Linked DNA regions of Homo sapiens. The protein of the gene in region 3 interacts with the protein of the main gene of each other region in a pairwise test. Each region holds a gene or a part of one and is shown on either strand. Other genes may lie near its edges.

The links. The genes of interacting proteins can lie anywhere in the genome.
Region 1: the proteins of TRIM74 (region 3) and PRR35 interact in binary tests that used the Homo sapiens proteins (3 or more experiments, as listed by UniProt).
Region 2: the proteins of TRIM74 (region 3) and TTC23 interact in binary tests that used the Homo sapiens proteins (3 or more experiments, as listed by UniProt).

Annotation. Positions count from the first base shown.
Region 1 is NC_000016.10:556,384-563,416, forward strand, and holds the start of PRR35 (proline-rich protein 35), read left to right. Parts: upstream 1-4,010; 5' UTR 4,011-4,278; intron 4,279-4,513; exon of another isoform or gene 4,514-5,412; intron 5,413-6,186; exon of another isoform or gene 6,187-6,371; intron 6,372-6,872; 5' UTR 6,873-6,911; coding exon 6,912-7,033.
Region 2 is NC_000015.10:99,246,559-99,253,887, reverse strand, and holds the start of TTC23 (tetratricopeptide repeat protein 23), read left to right. Parts: upstream 1-4,306; 5' UTR 4,307-4,717; intron 4,718-5,577; exon of another isoform or gene 5,578-5,675; coding exon of another isoform or gene 5,676-5,700; intron 5,701-7,329. UniProt on the Homo sapiens protein: Participates positively in the ciliary Hedgehog (Hh) signaling.
Region 3 is NC_000007.14:72,966,460-72,973,591, reverse strand, and holds the start of TRIM74 (tripartite motif-containing protein 74), read left to right. Parts: upstream 1-4,125; 5' UTR 4,126-4,307; intron 4,308-6,638; exon of another isoform or gene 6,639-6,759; intron 6,760-7,132.

The DNA.
Region 1 (7,033 bases), on a different chromosome or scaffold from region 3:
AGGTTTTGGGGGGTGGGAGGCCAAGGCCCAGGACCCGGATCTACCCCAACAGTGGCCAGCCCTGGTGCTGAGGGCTATGGGGGGGCTGGACATGGGGCCCCACCACCCCACCTGCCAGTTGGAGGCCCCGCCACCCCGCCCGCCAGCCCGCCTGCCACTCAGGCGGGGAAAATCATCTGTGACAGGCCCAGGAAGGCCAGCCCCGGGGGCCGCAGAGAGACACACACAGCTCCTCTTCCCAACATATGGCTGCTGTCGGCCCCGGGCGCTGCTGGCCAGTGCCAGGCTCGGGAGCCGGTGGGGGCTCGAGCAGCCTCAGCCTCCCGTCCCACCCGCCTGGCTGGCTGCCCCCTCTGTCAGTCTACATCCCAGCCTCCTGGGACGGGGCTCACTCCCACCACAGCAGCTCAGCCCTCCAAGGAGCGTCCTGTACCCTCCTCCGTCCCAGAGGCTCAGGACACACAGAGGGTCAGCCCCGCACCCGGCCCAGGGTGGCCAGTGACCCGGCACGTCTATGAGAGTGTAGTGCATGGGGAAGGGCCCAGCTGGGGTCTTCCAGAGCCGGGAGGCGGGTGGGGAGGGGACTCTCTGGTGTGGACTCTGGGATGGTCAGGGCTGCTGGGGAGGACTATCCCTGGTAGTGCTCGAGCCGGAAGACTCCTGGAGCCCCCATTCAGGCGCCTCCTAACAGGGCCCCCGTTCCCTCAGGTGGATGGACCCAGGGACCCCAGAGCTCCGCAGGCTCTTCGTGTGCCCCCCACACCCTTGGGCCGTTGTCCTGGGCGCTCTGGCCCACTCGGTTGCCCAGCCCCCTCCGTTCTCCCCTGGCACCCCCACTGTGTACCCGCCCATCAAGGCCAGCAGCCTCAGGCTGGTGCCGAGGGCCCTCACGTGTATCCATGACCCCTTCCGCCAAGGCTGGGCTGCCCCTCTCAACCAGGGATCCTCAAGTGGGCAGCAAGGAGGAAGCCCCCAGGAGGCCTATGCTCTGTAGACCTGGGGTTCTTGAAGTGCTCAGGGTGGCCACAGGCCCTGGGGTCCGTTATTGAAAGGACAGACATCAGCTGTGTCCGGACACCTTGCAAGGTACTGACCCCACGTGGGGGCTCCAACCTGCTGCCGCTGGATAGATTGCCCCGGTCTCAGGACCTGCGTGGGGCCTCCAGCCTGGCTGCAGCCCTGACACTGCCCTCACTGTGTGGGTGCAGGCACCCCGGCCCCTGCACCTGTCCTGACACTGGCTGTGTGTCGACACTGAGGGGATGAGACAGGCCTGCCCCCGGGCACTGGCCATGCCGAGCGCTGCCTCCGCTGCCTTCTCTGAGCCCAGCTCTCCGTCCTGCCCGTGAGCCCCCGGCACAGAGTCCCATTGTTAATGGAGGTGACAGGCGGGCAGCCGTGGGCAGACCGGGCAGAAGAGGTTAATGGCCAAAAATGAGCTTCTGGCTGGAGGCAGAAGGAGGGGCCATGGGGTCCCCATCCCACCCTGCACTGGGACTGGCTAAGGAGACATCAGGGCACCCACTAGGACCAGAGCAGAAGTGCCCGGACACTGAGCACCCCACTGCCCATTCTGCAGATGGGGGCCATGGGCCAGAAAGTTGGGGGGGTGGGGGCACAGGTGCCAAAACAGAGTCCCAGTCACTGCCTCAGGAAGCAGAAGCCACCTCTCCAAACCCAAAGTCAGCCCAGTGTGCAAGAGCTGGGACCAAGCAGGTGGGTCATGGCCACAGTGAGGAAGCTGACGTGCCCAGGGGGCCCTGTGGTTGCGGGGTGCTGGCACTGATATCCCGGCCTCGCCTGGCTGTTTGTGATGGGAACAGTCATCTGGGCACCCAGTGTACTGGCCTCACATGCTCCTCACCCCCCACCTCGTGCACGGCTGAATCTCAGGACCCCCACCAGCAGGTGCAGGGCCCCCTCATCCTCCCTGCCAGAGTCCTTCCGGGAGGCCAGAAACACGTCCAAGTTGTGCCCCGGGGCCCCTCTCGAGGCTGCCCCTCTTCTCTTCTCATGCAAACTTCTGCAAAGGCCCATCGGTGGTGAGGGGTGGAGGTGCTCCTTCAGCCTGCTCAGCGCTAGACACGGCCTTGTTCCCCCTCTGGGGCTCCTTGGTCCCCTGAGCTTCACTGGGCTTTATTTCCTGTATGCTGACATCTAGGTGCTCCAAGACCAGGCCTCCCTGCTCCCTACTTTCCTCCCCTGGACAATGGCCAGAGCCTCCAGCCAGTTGGTCTCCTGTGCTGTCAGCTGTGGCCTCTTCCAGACCTTCAAAGGGGTCAGTCTCGGGCTGGCCACTGAGGGACTACTGGTGTCAGGGTGACCTTGGACCCTAGTCTCCCGGGGCAGTGCTCAGCTGAACACGTCCAGAGTAGAGTCTATGTACAGAAGCAGCCGGCCTCCTGGCCCCCGCTCTCCACGGGGCTGCTGGCGTGACGGCAGCCCAAGCTGTCTCCCGGCCCGGAGCTGCCTGCACGGTCAGCTGGTCAGCTGGGCCAGGCCAGGTGGGCAGAGAGAAGGCTGGCATGCTCTGCCATCCACAGCACCCCTCCCAGTCCCCTGCCCCGCCCCAGGGACTTCCCTCAGACGGGCGTGTGCGGCTGTGTCAGGGAAGGTGGCATGGAGGCAGGAGGGAGACAGAGCCCCACGCCCACCCCAGAACCAGGGGCTGTTCCTCATGGACCCTGGGTGTGCTCTACCAGGGGGCTCTGCCAGCAGCCGGACCGGGGCCACGGAGATGCTGCTGAGCTCTCTTCTCTGCCCCATTCGAGGGGTGACACCCAGAAGCCCCGTGGGGTCCTCCCTTCTTCCCCAAGGCACCCCTGACCCCGACCTGAGCTGGGGACAGCCCGGGAGCCTGCGGCTGAGCCTGCAGAGAGCCCCAGGTCCTGGGGAGCTATGTGGGCCGGGCTCCCTGTGCTGTTTCAGAGTCAGCAGGGAGTAGCACACTCCCCTCTGGCTGGAGACCCCGAGACGCCCGCCTACCGCAAGTGTCGGGTTTAGGACGTCTCCCCTGAGCGAAGTCAGGGGCTCTGCCCCAGCCATGCCTGTGTCCGGGAGGGAGCAGGCCGGTCAGGCGAACCTCCCCTAGGCCCCAGCTGAGCAGTGGGGCTCCAGGCCTTTACGTTCTGGCAGCTCAGGGAGCTGCTTGGAACTTGGTGCAGCCCGGGAGGTGGGGCTGGGAGCAGCCCTGGCCCTGCTTCTCTCCTCCACCGCCCCAGGTCCTCTCAGGAGGGGACTCCCGTGGGGAGGGGGTCTTTCAAACAGCAGGGAAGTGCGTGGCCTCGTGGGGCAGCGCTGAGGCACCTCCCACAGGAGCCGGGAGTGAGGGCTGGAGGGGTCCGCATCCAGGAAGGGGGAGGGTGCTGGAGACCAGCCCCAGGTGGAGGCGGTCAGCCGGCAGGGCGGGGTGCGAGGGGCCGGTCCGGGCAGCCTCCGGTTTAGAGGAAAAGAGAACGGAGGGCAGGGCTCGCCCAGGGAGGGCAAGGAAGGGAGCCCGGCTCCGCTGGCTCAGTCCGCGGCACCCCTGTCCCCCAGGACAGCCCCCAGGGGCCCTGGCTCGGGTGGGCCGGCGGCTGTCAGGGGCCAGAGCCCTGATGGATAAGCGCTGACGGCCCCTCTCCCGCGCCCCGCGCCGCTGACACCCATCACGCCGCGGCGGGGACCCGGGAGACCTGGCGGCCTCTGTGCACCCCCGCGGCAGCCTGCGGGCAACGGGGGCGGGAGGCGCCGGGCGCCCCTGACTCGGCCGCACACCTGCGCCGCAGTCCGCTCTCCGTCCGCTGCCTCCCGGGTTCCCGGCCGCTCCACCGCGCGCCCCGAGAGCTGAGCCGGTCCCGGCGCACGAGGCCGGTGAGTGCGCGCCAGGGGGCGGCGGGGGGCGCGCGGGCGGCGGGGGCGCGGGGTTCGGGCCGGGGGCTGCTCCTTCCCTCCCGCCGCGAGCGCGGTCGGAGGTCGCAGCGCCCCCCGGAGCCCGGAGCCCAGGCGCACGCGCGCCCGCCTCTGCCGCCAACTTCGGGAGGTGCGAGCGGCGTCGGGGGGACGCGGGCGGCGGCGGAGGCTGCGGGAGTCGCTGCCGCTCGAGGGACCGCGGACCCGGGAGGTCCGGCTCCCGGCGCCGGGCCTCAGTTTCCCCCACGGGAGCCGCATCCCACCCCCAGAGCCCCAGCGCGTCCGCGGGGTCCGAGTCGCGGCCGGCGCGGGGCGGGGAGGGGCGGGAAGTTTGCGCCCTACACGCGGCCTCGCAGACTTGGCGGCTCCGCTCCCGGCCGGGCGCAGGTAGGAGCGGCGGGAGCCGCGGGGGCGGCCAGTTGGGCGTCGCGGGGCCGGCTGGACGCGGGGCGCGGGGGCAGCGGGTGGCCAGGCGTGTGGGGGGCGCGGGGGGCGGCCGGGTCCCCCCCACCCTCTTCTCGAAGTCCAGGAGCAGCGCGGGGGGAGGGAGGGCCGCCCTCAGGGGCCAGGCGGGGAGGGCAGGGGCCGGGTCTGGGGTCTGGGGCAGACGCCTGACCTCGCGCTCGCCGCACCCGCCTGTGTGGGGCGCCCTGCGTTCCCGGGGGGGGGGGCAGCAGGATCTGCGGGTGGCCGATCAGGGTCCCCGGCTGCTGGGTGCCCCCTCCTGCCCTGTGGGGGTGCCTGTGCCCCCCGTGCCACCGGTTCTCCCCCAGCTCTCCCCCAAACAGGGACAGGTGAGTGGGGCCGGGTGTCGGGGCCTGGCACAGGGCTGCTGGCTGCCCCGGGAGCGATTGCCGGGTCCGGCTGGGACGCGCGTGTGAGTGCGTATGCGTTTGTGTGTGCGTGTGGCTGCTGTCCAGGGGTGTCTTTTGCTCTGTGTACACACACCAGGTGGGTGCCAGCTATCCTCCGGGTCCCCAAGGGGTCAGCAGCTGCTGAGACAGCCCCTTGGACAAGCCCCTGACCCGGGAGCCCCCGGTCCCTGCTGGGAGGCGGGATGGGTTGTGGCATCGGCTGGCACAGCTGTGTGGCTCCCAGGGCTGGGTGATCGATGGCCCGGCACAGCCGCCTCTGTCGCCGGAGCGCCCACACCCATTTGTCATCCACATGGGTGGGGGGGGCGGCGGGCAGGGAGAAGGGGCCGCCTCTGCACCCACCACCCAGTCCAGGCCGGGTCTGCAGCCCCTCGGGGAGCCCCAGGACCTCTCCTGGCCCAGCCCCTGCCTCCCGACCGCCACCCTGTCTCAGCCACAGACCAGCTGGTCAGCCTCTGCCTGCCCCTGCAGCCCGTGACTGCCCTGCAGGGCCCCAAGCCTTTGGACGAGTGGACTTCTCCAGCCCTGTTGGTCGTCCCCCCAACGGCACCAACACAGTGTTTTGGGGGCAGCAGACAGCAGTGCCCCAGCCCTACCCTGCTCAACCCACTGGCCATGCATGACCACGGGTGCGACCCCCAGCCAGGTCTGCGTGTGTCCTGGGGAGTCGGTGTGTAGGGCCTGTGTGAGCATGTGAGTGCCGTGTTGGAGTGGTTTGGAAAGCCCCCCCACACCTGGATGGGTGGTGAGTGTGTTATCACGGACAAGCAGCCGTGTTCACCGTGATGGAGTGTGAGGTGTGTGCAGCCAGGGCCCCGCACTTGGTGGCAGACTCCGTTCTGAGCTTAGGTGGCACAGAGGTGGCTTCTCCGGGCACTGGGTGAGGGCTCTGTGTGAGCCTGTGGGCTGTGTACACACACCCAAAGCCCGTGTGCGCAGGCGTGCTGTGCACCCCACACAGGCGCGTGCTGGGGCGGTGGACAGCCCAGGTGGCGGCCCAGATGGAGTGTGGCGCGCATACCAGCGCCGTGTGGGGCGTGGGGAGGAGCGGGTCTTGGCTGAGTGTGGCCGCTGCAGGCTCGGCCGCTGACCTGCCCGAAGCCACCCAGATGGAGCTGGGCTGAGCAGGTGGCTGAGCCGTGGGGCCATGCTGGGACGTCCACTCCCCACAGCCTGGCCTGGCCCCACATGAGACTGACCCCCTAAGAGACCCCCAGTGCCCACCTGACGCCCTGCTAGAGCAGGCTCTGTGCCGCCTTTAGACACACACGCATACACACGCACTCACACATGCATGCATGCACACATGCACACACAATGCACACACGTGCACATGAACACAAGCATGCACAGAGGCACATGCACACACAGGCGCACACACGTGTGCACACACACGCACATGCACGCACACACACGTGCATGCACACGCACACATGCACACACACAGACACACACAGGCACACACACACACACGCAGCATCATCCCACACAGACCCTTCCGTTGGTGTCTCATCTCAGTGCCTTTTCCTAGGCTTTGAACAGGCAGATTGGCAGGGGCCAGGGTTGCTGGAGGGAATGAGACCAGGAGGCTGACGTCCACCCGAAGTGAGCTCTGGTCACGCTGATTCTTTTAGCCACTCACATGCTGTGGGGAGATGGGTGTGGGCTGAACTATCCTAGAAATTGGCCAGCAAGTCGGCCTGGCCTCAGGGGTGGGGATGTGTGTAGGGTCAACCGATAAAATAAAGGACGCCTAGTTAAAATCGAATTTCCGATAAACAATGAACACCTTTCTAGTGTGCCTTTCCAATATTGCCTAGGCTACACTTAACACTCAGAAATGACGTGCTGCTGATCGGCGTCAGATGCAGCTCGCTGTCCTGGACTTTTTTTTTTTTTTTTGGTGCCCTGGACTTTGCTGCCACCCTGGAAGTGCACGTGGGGAGGAGCCGAAGGATGGGGCTCGGGGGGCACGTTGCAGGGCAGAGGCGGCGGGGTGGGGGGAGCACCCAGGCTCCAGTCCCTGGAGCCTGGGGAGCCATGGATGGAGAGGAGTGGGGAGTTAGTCAGAGGCAGGCTTGGCACTGACTGTGGCCCCATCTACAGGTGGCCATGGTGCCCGGCCCTGCCTCATAGCAGGCTGCCATGTCGCGGGAGGCGGGCTCATGCCGCGTGGGCACAGGGGCGAGGGCGCGGTCTCGGAAGCCCAAGAAGCCACACTACATCCCGCGGCCCTGGGGCAAACCCTACAACTACAAATGCTTCCA
Region 2 (7,329 bases), on a different chromosome or scaffold from region 3:
ACCTCCAATCTATCACAAGGCTAGTGGCCTCTATCTCCCAAATACATCTCAAATCCATCCAAATCTCTCCATCTGCCAAAACCACAAGCCACAGTCATCTCCTGCCTGGCCAACAGTATTACCAGTCTCCCTGTGTCCACTCTAGTCACTTCCAACACATTAATCCCAGCAATGGGCCTTTAAAAATGTACATCCAATTACATCTCACTCTTTTCGGTACACATCTTACTAAATAAACCCTTCAGAAACTTCTTACTTAGAAAATCAACTCATACTAGGCCTTGAGGGTGCCTCACCATCTGCCCCCACCCACTTCTCCAGCAACTCTGCTTGGCTTCTCACCAAGCTTCTGGGCTTTTCCAATCCTCAAAGCTACTAAACCCCTAACAGCACTTGCTGGTCTCCTCTTAGCCTAGAAAGCAATGTCCCATCATTCTCCAGATTTCAACATAAAAATTACTTCCTGAGACCGGGCGCAGTGGCTCACGCCTGTAATCCTAGCACTTTGGGAGGCCGAGGAGGGTGGATCACCTGAGGTGAGGAGTTCGAGACCAGCCTGGCCAACTTGGCGAAACCCCATCTCTACTAAAAATACAAAAATTAGCTGGGTTTGGTGGCGGGCGCCTGTAATCCCAGCTACTCGGGAGACTGAGGCAGGAGAATCTCTTGAAACCGGGAGGCGGAGCTTGCAGTAAACCGAGATCGCACCACTGCACTCCAACCTGAGCGACAGAGCGAGACTCAGTCTTAAAAAAAAAAAAATCACTTCCCTATCCCAAAGTAATTCCCCTGGTGTTCTTTCAGAGGAACTTGGCTGTTTGTTTTTTCTTCGTAGGACTCCTCACAATTTGTCACTTAAATATTTATCGTTGCATCTGTCTATTGTCAATAAAGCCAAAAAGCCTGTAAATAAACCCTTCCGAAACTTATTTAGAAATCCTGAGGGCAGGGACTGCGTTGTTTTCTTCACGCTTGCATACCTGCATCTAGCACAGTAACTAAAAGTAACCCTTCCTAAAACCTAGGTGATGGGTTGACAGGTGCAGCAAATCACCATGGCACACGTTTACCTATGTAACAAACCGGCATATTCTGCACATGTATCCAGGGACTTAAAATTTTAAAGTAGGCCTTCTAATATCTGATGACATGTGGAAGAACATTGCAAGGTTGATTTTTCATCCAACTATGTCAAGACCACGGATAGAGCCTATAAGCTTGCTACATGCCACAAGGATGTCTAATCTTTACAACCATGCACTGCAATAGACATTATGTAGCCCGTTTTGTAGAGGAGGAAACTGAGTTTCTCAGAGGGTAACATGCCATAGTTCCATCGCAGGTGGACTGACTACAAAGCGTGTGCACCGCCGCCCTATAATGCAAAACCACACTCACTGAAGGAAGATTCAATAAGACAGTCCCTGTAACCTGACGGCTTTCCTTCTGAATGTTCTGGCTGGGATTGGCTGCCTCAAAAACACCATTACACTCTGTTAAAATTGCTACAAAGGCTGTTTGGGAGATAAAATCTAAACAAATGAAATCCTAAAACTGCCAATAATAGCAATAAAGCATCAACAATGCTCACAGTTTTGCAGTATGCATTCACGGGCCATACACAGCCTTTAACAAGGTAATTTTCTTACCCCATTTCACTTGACTACATCTTACCTAGTTAAGCAAACTACCTCTTGTATAGTTATACTACCTCTTATGTAGTTAAGGCAAATAGTATTACTTAATATCAGCTGTATACAGCTGCACTTACACACGAGCTTTCTGACAGGTGAACACCAATCTATCTTATTATTAAAAACAAAACAAAAAAATCAAAAACCTCTCAACAAAATTCCACACATATTAAGGAGTATTTTGAAAGGAAGGAGTCCCTTATACTGACCTCCCCGTACTCAATTTAGTAGAATACGCATTCCAATTTCCTAACGCTGGAGATTAGAGAACTATAAGCTACATATTAAAAGCATTTGTAAAAGGCTATTTTCTCAGCTGTGGTAACAAACACTGGCAGAGTCTTAGGCAAAACACACGCCGTTTCGCCCGAGTTAGCCAGCCACTGAGATCGTTACAGTTGGGAAGCAGCGAGCCCAGCAGCAGGGATTTCACGGACCCGGTATCAGGGTTCTCGGGTCCCAGGGGCCGCGGGCCGCAGAGTGGGAGGAGGACCCGGCAGCTGTGGCCACCCGAGGCCCGGACGGCTCCGCTGTCCCACTCGCCGCGACCCGGACGCTTTGGCAGGACCACGTCTGGGGCGTCCCCGCCGGGGGGCCGGGTCAGAGAGCCTCGCCACTTGAATCACCCGACGAGGCGGACAGCTCTACTCACCTCAGCGCCAGCAGAGCCAGCGCTCCGGAGCGCAAGCGGCGCTGGAAGCCAAGCGGGGGACGGCGGGCGGGGCGGGGCAGGGAGCCAGGCGAGGGCGGGGCGGAGCGCCGGGCGTCGGGGGCGGGGCTCCGGGGGTGGAGCGGAACCCGCGCCAGAGGGAGCTGGGGAAGAGGGAGCGGGAGAGGAGCACGGAACCTCGCGATAATCCCCTGTGTTCTCGCGCTTTCACGATAGGCGCGGGAAAATGCTCGTTTGCCAAGCGATCTGTGTATTGGCCGAGAGCGCTACTTCCTCTATGCTGGCCCCGCCCGCGGCTCTACTCTTGCTTCCGGCTCCGGCGTGGGGTTTGATGTCGACGGAGTGGCTTTTGCTTAGCGTCTTGAAGGGGTAATTTAGTCGGCTCCAACTTCGGGAACCGCCAGTTACTGACCTGTTCCTTCATTCATACATTCATTCAGTCACTCGGCTTCTCATTCAGAGCACACGTTGAGGGATTACAACAATGATCCCACGTTGAGCGTTCGTTCTAAGAGCTGTTTATAGATTATCTCGTTGAACCCTTGACAGCAATCCCATGACACAGGGACTAACAGCGCCAGTCTGACCGTTGAAAAACAGGCCAGTGGGTTTATGTAACGAAGCCAACGTTATTTAGCAAGTAGTGAGTCTAAGCACCGGATTTAAGGGGTCACTACGAACTGGTAGATAACAAAGATGAGGAGGACGTAACCTAGTCTCTGCCCTTCAAACACCCAAGGTTTATTTTGAGTAAAGATTGCTAAAAAGGTCAGGAACAATTTAGAGAGTTAAATACAATGACACTTCCTAGCCTGACTGAGTAGGCCGTCAATATGTATTTCTTCAAGACGAAAATTATTATGTCAGCGAAATAGCATGAAAGAGGGCTTTATGCTGTTAAAAATACTTGGAAGCATAGTTCGGAAACATTTTTAAAAGACACTTTTTAAAGTGTCTCATTAATATGACAAATTTCCTTCTGAAATGAAGATTTTAAAGTATAATCCTCTACTACAACCGCTGATATTTTTTGTTCTGTGGAAAGCCTGTCTATGAGTTTGCGAGGCTCCTTGTCAAGGAACTTTAACTTTATAATGAAGTAGTTTTTACAGTTGCTGACTTAATTATTCATAGAGACGAATAACCTAGAAAGCAGAGTTATATTAAATAAAAAACATTGGTTTTAAAACAAGGTATGAGTTATAATAAAAATTATCAGTTATCTATTAAATCTGGTCTTCAAGAGCTATTCAGGTATACAGCATGGTTGGTATATGTCATGTATTTCTAAGATAGTTTCGGAATACCTAAGAATTCGTGGCACTCAGAAATTTTTTGCTGGTCTTAAAATGAGGAAATCCACATTTTGTGTAAAAACAAAGATACGGTGTTTAATGGTCAGCCCAAATAATAAGACTTGCTGCTAATATATGAAGAGTTACACCCCCCAAAAAAGAAAAAAGATTAACAGTAGAACAGTTTTTTGAAAACAATGTTAGCCTCTTAGTTTTCATTTCTTTTTTTTAATGGGGAATACTGTTTTTCAGTGATTAATATCTGATATTTGATCATGAAAAATGAATCATGTTAAAATAACCTTCACCTCCTCCCCACATTGACACAAAAGTTACCAAGTGATTATATTTGATAATACTTTATGACCCCACTCTTGAAGTTCTCACAATTTGTAGAGAATCAATTCGCACGTTTTGTCTCTCTTAAAGGGGAAAAAAATCCTCTAAGCTGGTGATTTCACGTTCTTTGACAAACTTCAATATCAACAGGCAACGATACCACTTTAAGAAAATTCCAAGGAAAAGACCTCATTTTAAAATTCCCACCTCTGGCTCCCAAAGATTGGTTTGCAAACTTCGACAAAATACTCTTCTCCACTCGCTATTGGTGAGTGCTCTATCATTCATTCTTTTGCCTGGAGTTTTGTGAGGTACCCGCTTGCTTTATGGGAAAAGGCTGCTCCGGAACTGCCCTACTTTAGACTTTTTCATGGTTATCAATCTGTACAAAGAATCACCAAACTGATAAAGCAGGAACCAGAGGGCAAATCACGCTGCCAAGACAACTGTGTAATTCGCTCGAAAAAGAAACGGTGAGCCTCTCCAGCAGACTGGGTAAACTGGCAAGGGATTTTACGACATAGTTGGAGATTGGAGAGTTACAGAAACTTTTCCGGTTTTTTACAAGTTTTAAAGGAGTGATTGAGTGTCAAAGGAAAAGCAGAGAAAATACAGGCACAATTTAAAGACAGCAGGAAGAAGAGTGTTCAGAGAGCATTTTTCTCTTTAGGGTGAAGTTTGAAAGCATCATGCCCAGATTATCAGTGGATTTTTGAAAGGTAAAGGAGGCAAGATAATAAGATTAACTATAGATCATTTTCTACTTTAAGAAACTGTGCTTCGTTATTGTTGCTTAAGTGTGGATTTAGAAGGACATTTAGTAATATTGTAATTTTTATATGGATATTTTTGTTTATATATTGTCATACCTGGCATAATAGATAATATATCTATTAAAAGATATAGGAGAAAATAGAGTTGCTTGAACCCAAATTTTGTGTATATTTGTGGATTAGGGATTCCAGGGACAGATCTGCTAATGGCTGAACAAAACATACTACAGATACCTGAAGCAGAATCAGCATGTAAGGGTAAATTCTCAAAAAAATCCAGCAATCATATTTCAAAAATGACATTTTTAATTAAAACAAATACAAAAGAATTTATCAAGGAAACGTTGATGAACATGACTATTTCTTAAGTTGCCTGTGTTAATCCATATAGGGGAATATAAAGTAATAAAATCCAGCCCCTCAAGAGCAGGGACAAATGAGGCTCAGAACATTTAAACTAAAACTTCTGAACAGTTCTTAATGCCCGGATGACTGTTGTAGAGCACAGGTGCTTCAGGAGCTCAGCTCAATGTGAGATGAATTATTCAGAGAAGGCTTCACAGTATGGGTAAGACTCAATTTGGGCCTGAGCAATGGGCAGAATTTCAGAGAGAAAAATAAGGGAAGTGGCATCCCTACTAGTGAGTGAGTTGTTAGCAAATACATGCAGCCTGAGGAAGAGTTGGTTCTGACTGCGGCAGAAGGTTCATTTGGAAACTTTGGTTACAAATTTTAAAAAGCAGCATGAGAAATATAAAGAGCCGGAATTCCCAAAATCAGGGGTTTGGGTCCTGTGTTTGGAACAGGAGGCACCCCTTATGAAAGTAATATTTGAAGACAATAAAACTGACAGTGGAATTTAAGATGGCTAGACCAGAGCAGAGACCAGAAGCTAAGGGGCCCCATGCTGTGTAAATACTGGCACACAGGTTAGTAACCATGCTTCTTACCCGAATACATTTACCTTATCATTGTTGAATAATATAAATTTTGATGCACTTCTTTGTAGTCTTCGAAAGCATTGAGTTTACTTCTTTAAGATTTTTGGGGACCGCTGCCACACTGTCTTGGGGAGTCATGGTTGCCCCGTCTTTATAAAAGTCTTGTCATAATATGTATAAAAACCAGAATTACACATAAAACTGCGTTGTGGTTTCATAGCTATTTTTAACAGCTTTAATGAAGTATAATTTATATATTATAAAGTTCATTTGTCTTAAGGATATAACTCAATGATTGTTTTAGAAAATCACAACCATCACCACATTCCAATTTTAGAAAATTTTCATCATCCTAGAAAATTTAGAAAATTTTCATCATCCTAGAAAATTTAGAAAATTTTCATCATCCTAGAAAATTTAGAAAATTTTCATCATCCTAAAAAAATACTTTGTGCCCATTTGCAGGCAAGTCCTGGTTTCCTATCCCCAGCCCCAATCACTAAAAAACTTTCTGTCTATAAATTTACCTTTTCTGGGCATGTAAGTGGAATTACACATTATGCGATCCTTTGCATCTAGTTTCTTTTACTTAGCATAATGTTTTTGAGGTTCATCCATGTTGTAGTATGTCTCATTACTTCATTCCTTTTTATTGCTAAGTAATAATCCACATTTTATTTAACAGTACCAATTAACAGACATTTGGATTTCTTCTAGTATTTAAATATAGTGTTTAATTGTACTAATTGTAATTGTATTACAGTAAATACAGTACAGTATTTAGCATTATGAATAATGCTGCTATGAAGATGGGTACAAGTTTTTGTATGAACGTGTGTTTTCAGTTTTCTTGGGTGTATATCTACGAGTGGAATTACTGTCATATGGTAACTCTGGGTGTAACTTTTCAAGGTGTTGCACAACTGCTTTCCAAGGTGAATTTCCCATTTTACATTTCCACCAGAGTGTATGAGGGTTCCAATTTGTCCACATCCTCACCAACACTCCTTATGATCTGTCTTATTCATTGTAGTCATTCAGCTGGATTTTAAGTGGTATCTTATTACAGCTTTCATTTGCATTTTCCTGATGACTGACGATATGAAGCATCTTTTCATGTGCTTGTTGACTATCCATATATCTTCTTTTGTAAAATGTCTTTCAAATATTTTGCCTATTTTTTTAATTGAGTTGTCATCTTGTTACTGATTGTTTTTTGGTTTTTTTGGTTTTTGTTTGTTTGTTTGTTTGTTTGAGACTGGGTCTCGCTTTGTCGCTCAGGCTGGAGTGCAGAGTGCCACGATCTCGGCCCACTGCAATGTCCACCTTCCGGGTTCAAGCAATTCTTCTGCCTCAGCCTCCCGAGTAGCTAGGATTACAGGTGCCCACGACCACGCCCAGCTAATTTTTTGTATTTTTAGTAGAGACGGGGCTTCACCATGTTGGCCAGGCAGGTCTCGAACTCCTGAACTCGTGATCCACCTGCCTTGGCCTCCCAAAGTGCTGGGATTACAGGCATGAGCCATCGCGCCAGCCCATGTTAATAAATTTTTTTTTTTTTGACACGGAGTGTCACTCTGTCACCCGGGCTGGAGTACAGTGGCTCGATCTCAGCTC
Region 3 (7,132 bases):
GGAGTCTCAAATCTGTTGCCCAGGCTGGAATGCAGTGGCACGATCTTGGCTCACTGCAACCTCTGCCTCCTGGGTTCAAGCGATTCTCCCTGCCTCAGCCTCCCGAGTAGCTGGGGTTACAGGAATCCACCACCACGCCTGGCTAATTTTTGTATTTTTTAGTAGAGATGGGGTTTCACCATGTTGGCCAGGTTGGTCTTGAACTCCTGACCTCAGGTGATTTGCCCGCCTTGTCCTCCCAAAGTGCTGGAATTACAGGCGTGAGCCACCACGCCAGGCCCCTCTTTAGATCTGCTTTTTTTTTTTTTTTAAACAGGATCTTGCTCTGTTGCCCAGACTGGAGTGAAGTGGCACGACTATAGCCCACTGCAGCCTTGAACTCCGGGCTCAAGTGATCCTCCCGCTTCAGCCTCTCCAGTAGCTGAAACTACAGGCACACGCCACCACGCCCAGCTAATTTTTATTTTTATTTTGTAGAGATGGGGTTTCACTATGTTGCCCCGGCTGGTCTAAAATTCCTGGCCTCAAGCGATCCTCCTGCCTCCGCCTTCCGAAGTGCTGGGATTATAGGCTTGAGTCACCACCGTGCCCAGCATACATCTGCTTTCTGAATATTTGAGAGGCGGAAGGCACAAGGCGTGACAATTGATGGGATTTGGGATGTAAAGAGCAAGAGAGGACTCAAGCACAGTCGCCTCGAGGTTTCTAGCCCCGGCTGCTGTCACCAACCACTCTCAGGAAGGTAGGCAGAAGGTTACGCAGGAGAAACCGTAGGGGTAGTTCTGAGGCCCTGGAAGGGGTAGTTCTGAGGCCCCCGGGGGTGCGGAGCTGCAGGTCCAGGGAGGAGTGGTGAGGCTGGAGGAAGGTGAGGCTGGAGGAGGAGGTTCAGGAGGCTCTGAGGTAAAGATGGAGGCTGGGGCCTTGGGAGTCGAGGAGTTTACCCAAGACGAAGCATCTGTGTGGAAGAAAAGATAAGGCTGGGCGCAGTGGCTCACGCCTGTAAACCAAGCGCTTTGGGAGGCCGAGGTGGGCGGATCATCTGTGGTCAGGAGTTCGAGACCAGCCTGGTCAATATGGTGAAACCCCTTCTCTACTAAAAATACAAATATTAGCCGGGTACAGTGCACCTGTAATCCCAGCTACTCGGGAGGCTGAGGCACAAGGATCACTTGAACCCGAGAGGCAGAGGTTACAGTGAGCCGAGATCATGCCACTGCACTCCAGCCTGGGTGACAGAGCAAGACTCCATCTCCAAAAGAAAAAGAAACTATAAACATCATTGAAAGAAACTAAAGAAGACCTAAATAAATGGAAGGAAATCATGTTCATGGATTAAAAGACTTAATATTATTAAAATTTCATTACTTCAGAAGTGATCTACAGATTCAACACAATCCCTATCAAAATCCCAGCTGTGGCTGGGTGTGGCGGCTCACTTCTGTAATCCTGGCACTTCAAGAGCCAAGGTGGGAGGATTGCTTGAGCCGAGAAATTTGAGACCAGCCTGGCAACATGATCTCTACAAAAAATATAGAAATTAGCCAGGCGTTGTGGTGCCAGCCTGTAGTCCCAGCTACCCAGGAGGCTGAGGAAGGAGGATCGCTTGAGCCCAGGAGTTTGAGGCTGCAGTGGGCTATGATCACATCACTGCTCTCCGGCCTGGGCAACAGTGCAAGGTCATGTCTCAAAAAAAAAATCCCAGCTGGCTTTTTTTTTTTTTTTGAGATGGAGTCTTGCTCTGTTGCCCATGCTGGAGTGCAGTGGCGGACGATCAGCCTCAGGGCAGGCCATCTAGAAGAATTACCAAAAACACCAACCCATTTGTCTCTCTATAAAGTGCTGACATTTGTGCTCTGCAACGTACAGCTGAGAGAGCACAAAACTTGTCTGACTCAGCACAGTCTAGGAAGTCAAGCAGCTCAATCTTGAACAGGACAGTGGTGTTTGGGGGGATCAAGGGAGGGGAGCCCAGCGTTCCATAGGCGTAGTTCGGTTTGAACAGAAACCTGGCCAGCTCTCCTCTCTGCATGCTCAGAAGGCCCAGCTCCATGCCCCACAATGTAATATCTGTAAGAAGGGACAAAGAAGGTGGGTGAAGCTTGCTCAGTATCCTGCTTAATGCTATCAGTTTCTTCCCCCTCTAAGTCAGCAGTACTCTGGCCTCCATGTCTCCCTCACACAGTTCCCTCTTCCTGCAATGTCTTCCTCCTGAGCCTGTGCCCAGCTTCTAGTGATAGAAATTTTATTCAAACTTCTGGGCTCAGTTCAAATGCCCCCTCTTCCAGGAAGCCTTCCCTGAACTTCCCAGCTAGAATTAATCATGCCTTCATTAAGCACACCCACAACACTGCTTTCACCTCCCAGGCACTCATCCGATTCTACCAAGTGAGCTGAGTGCAGGTCAGTCTCCTCTACTACATTGTGAGGTCCTTAAGGGTGGAGATGTTCTAATCTTCTGAGTACAACCTCTCTTTTCACCATGTATTGTGGGAAGTAAGCATTCGTCGATTTTTACTTAATAAATGAACAAAGAAACATTCCCAGTGGTGAGTTAAGTCAGAGTGCAAAGATTATACCTTGCCCATTAAGCCATCTCCCAAATGCCTAGGTCTCAAGGGGAGAGAACATGGCTGTTTTACCAAAACCCAGCCTCAGCAAAGTCAATTCAAAGAACCTGCGCTCTGAGCAGTCTTCCCAGCCTGAGGCATGGTGCCTCATCTCGCTCCTAAACAATCCCTTCTTCTCCAGCTCCTACTCTGAATTTACCCTCTCCAAGTTTCATTAGCCGAGGAGTTTTCCTAAAGTAATTAGAATCGAAGGGTCTGTCCAAGTGTTCCAGGTATCCATACTATTTCACTAGAATAGAGGAAAGAATGTAAGGAAAATGGACCCAAAACACCCACGCCTCCATAATATCGAGTCTCTCATGATCACACAGAAACAATGCGATCAGATGAGCTTAAGCTGCCCGACACCACGAGGTACAGGAATAAATCTCTCTGCATTTTAGGAGCCTGCCCTTCGGCTCAGAGGTTCAAGAGCTTCATGGAAGCATCACGCAAAGGGGACATAGGGGTCCTTAGCTTTCCTCTTAAAAAAACTAATTCATGGCAGAAGCAGCGGCTCACGCTTGTAATCCCAGCTACTGGGGAGGCTGAGGTGGGAGGATCACTTGGGACCAGGAGTCTGAGACCAGCCTGGGCAACATAGAAAGTGCCCCATCTCTACAAAAATATTAAAAATTAGCCGGGCATGGTGGATTGCGCCTGTAAATCTCTTATTTGGGAGGCTGAGGCTGGAGAATCACTTGAGCCCAGGAAGCAGAGGCTGCAGTGAGCTATGTTCGCACCACTGCACTCCAGCCTGGGGAACTGAGCGAGACCCCGTTTCAAAAACAAAAATCCACTTCAAACAAAGCATTTCCAACCCCATTAAATGCTTTTTGAAAATGAGGCCTCTCTCTTCCCAACAGAGTGCGATGACATGGATCCTGCGGACAAACCGCCCCAGGGCGTACCTAGCACCGAAGCATCAGGCGCCACTAGGTCTCCAGCTCCTTCTCGGATGACGTCCTTCAGCACGCCCCGGTCCCCCGAGATGTCCAGCATCCTCTGACTTAACCGCTCGTACAGGGACTGATGGAGAATGAAAGCCAGGCCTCAGAGCCGCAGACCCACCCGGCCACCCCTCAGCGTCTACGCCCCCACGTCTGGGCCCTCACCTGGCCGGGGGCGTCGTCCCCTTCCAGGACTCCCTGGTTTAACGCGCTTCCCCCCATGTCCTAGCTGCCCTCCCTGTGGCGTGAGCCTTCGGCCTGGTGCGCCCCGCTGCCCTTCCTGGCTGTGACTCTGGTGGGGTTCCGAAGGCCCCTTTATGCCCGGCAGACCCCTACCGACGGCGGCATTCCATTCTGGGGCCACGAGGAGGCACTCATCGTTTCGTTCCAACCGCCGCCAACGGCCCTGGCCCTCGCGAGCTCTGGAACTACAGAGGTCGCACGGTGAGTTGCCAGGTGTGGCCCGTAATCGGAGCGCACAAAACATGATGGGACACGTAACGGGACCACACAGGGCACATTGGGCACTTGCAGGGGCGCGAGGTGGCGGCACGTAATGGGAGCGCGCTGAGCATGATGGGGCATGTGCGGGAGCGCCAGGCGGGGCATGTAACCAGAGCGTGCGGGGCATGATGGGGCACGGACATGGGGGGTTAGGTGGGGCACGTAATTGGAGCTCGCGGGGCAGGATGGGGCATCTAACTGGAGCGACAGAGAGCACGATGGGGCACTTACAGGGGCCGGAGGCTGGGTACGTAATGAGAGCGAGCGGGAAATGATGGGGCACCTAACGAGCACGCAGAGCATGATGGGGCACGGGTGCGAGGTGGGGCGCACAGTGGGAGCGCGTGGGGCATGATGGGACACATGGCGAGGCCGTCAGGGCACAGGGGAAGCACTTTTGGAACACGTGAGTGACAGGGCTGCCGCCCTTGAAGGAGCCCTCGGAGTGGCTGCGTGGTGGGGCACGTGGGGCAGGTTCAGGAAAAAGGATGCAGCATGTGATTGCAGGGCAACCTGGTGAGGACACGAGAGCCACCTGCCACCAGCAGGGTTCAGGGCTCCCAGCTGTGGGTTACTTCCACCTTCTTTCACTTTCCCTCTTCCATTGTATTCTAGAGAATTTAGGCCCAGACAAGACACTGATTGATTGATTGATTGATCGATTGACAGAGGCTCGCTCTGAGCCCAGGCTGGAGTTCAGTGATGGATCTCAGCTCACTGCAGCCGCCACCTCCTGGGCTCAAGAGATCCTCCTGCCTCGGCCTCCCAAGTAGCTGGGATTACAGACGTGCACCACCAGGCCCAGCTAATTTATTTTTTAGTTTTTAATTTGCTGGTAAGATGGTTTGTAGCTTTGTTGCCTAGGCTGGTCTTGAACTCCTGGCTTCAAGCGATCCTCCAGTCTTGACCTCCCAAAGTGCTGGGATTATAGGCGTAGGCTACAGCCAACTTTCAATACTGCCCCATTGGGGGTTACGTTTCCAACACATGAAATTAGGAGGATACATTCAAACCACAGCAGTATATTATGACCATAATATTCATTAACTGTGTAACAGGCTGGGCGCGGTGGCTCACACCTGTAATCCCAGCACTTTGGGAGACCAGAGTGGGTAGATCACTCGAGGTCAGGAGTTTGAGACCAGCCTGGCCCACATGATGAAACCGCCTCTCTACTAAAAATACAAAAAATTAGCCGGTGTGGTGGCAGGCGCCTGTAACCTCAGCTACTTGGGAGGCTGAGGCAGGAGAATCACTTGAATCCGGGAGGTGGAGGTGGCAGTGAGCCTGATTGCACCACTGCACTCCAGCCTGGGCAACAAGAGCAAAACTCTGTCTCAATAAACAAACAAACAAACAAAACCTGTATAACAGAGTGTCATTGAATTTCTAAACGTTGAAAGACTTCACATTAAAAAAAAACTCACAATTTAATATTATTGAGTGAAAGAAACCAGACACAAAAGGGTACATTCTATATGATGCTGTTTATGTGACATTCAAAAACAGGCCACATGACAACATGGTAATAAGGACAGTGGCTGTCCTTGTTAGGAGTTATGACTGGAAGGAGGCAGGAGGGAGCTTTCTGGAAACACTGTACATCTTGCTCTTGAGAGTGCACGTATATACATCAAGTGTTTATCAAGCTGTGTGGTTAAGATTTGCACACTTGTATATGTTATACCTCGATTTAAAAAATCTAAATAAGTAAATAAAGATACCTTCAAATCTTTAAAAAAAAAAAAAAAAAGAGGCCAGGTTCGGCGGCTCACACCTGTAATCCCAGCACTTTGGGAGGCTGAGGTAGGAGGATTGCTTGAGGCCAGGAGTTCAAAACCAGCCCAGGCAACAAAGTGAGACCCCTGTCTCTACTAAAGTAAATAAAACAATAAAATAAAAAAAAAAATTCGAGAGATCGAACCATCATCTGCCAGTTTGTATTAGAAAAAAAGAGAGAGAGAAGGAAGACTGCGTGCAATAAGGCTCATGCCTGTAATCCCAGCACTTTGGGAGGCCAAGGTGGGAGGATTGCTTGAGCCCAGAAGTTGAAGACCAGCCTGGGCAACAAAGCAAGACCCGGTATCTACAAAAAAAATTTTAAAAATTAGCTTGGCATGGTGGCACGTGCCTGTAGTCCCAGCTACTCAGGCAGCTAAGGTAGGAGGATGGCTTGAGCCTAGGAGTTGGAGGCTGCAGTGAGCTGTGACCACGCCACTGCACTCCAGCCTGGGCAACAGAGCAAGACACTGTCTTCCCCTGCCCCCCAGCCCCCCACCCCCCCCAAAAAAGGATATAAGAGCAAGAGATTGAGATTCAGAAAGAACTGTTTCCCAGCACCTGTCTGCTCCTGTCGGGGTCGTGAGGTGTGGACAGTGTGCCTAGTCCCTCTGTTTCTGCCCCTCCTCCACAGTGGCCAAGGCCAGCACTTGAATGTTATCAGAGCAGGCCCAACAAAGGCTGCCTCCCCAGTCCTGTGATGTAACCCAGTTTCCACCTGATTCTGGTGACCTTGGGGACACAGGGGTGTTGCTGGGGAAGGGGAGGAGAGAAGGGGCAGAGACCAGGCAGTGGTGCAGGCGTCCAGCTGCACTTCCCACTTCTGACTCTGTGCCTGCTGTTCCCTGCTGGGAAGAAGAAAAGCCAGTGATGCTGGCTTGAGGCCATAGTGGGAGGCCCAGTGGATCCTGAGAAGCTAGGTATTCCAATGTCGGGCTCTCGCTGGGGGCTTCTGGTGCTTCTTCTGTCTCACTGACAAGCTTTCATAGGGGAGCAGGTGGGAGATCAGGGTAGAGGCCTTGTAGGTTCCAGGCTCTCTAGAATTACCTGGGAGTGTCACCTATAAGTGTAGAGTTCTGGGTCTCACTGGAGACCCCCTGAAGCAGATCCTTTGAAGGTGGGCCTCTAGAATCTCTATTACACCTATGCTTTCAACAGTTTCCTGAAAGTTTGGGAACTGATCTAGAAGGTGGGGAGCTTGCCTAGGTTTTGCTGTTCAGTTCTAGGTCCGGATGCATGCTGGGGCTGGACCTTGCATTATTAGTGTCACTGCAAATGACCCTGCAGATGGCC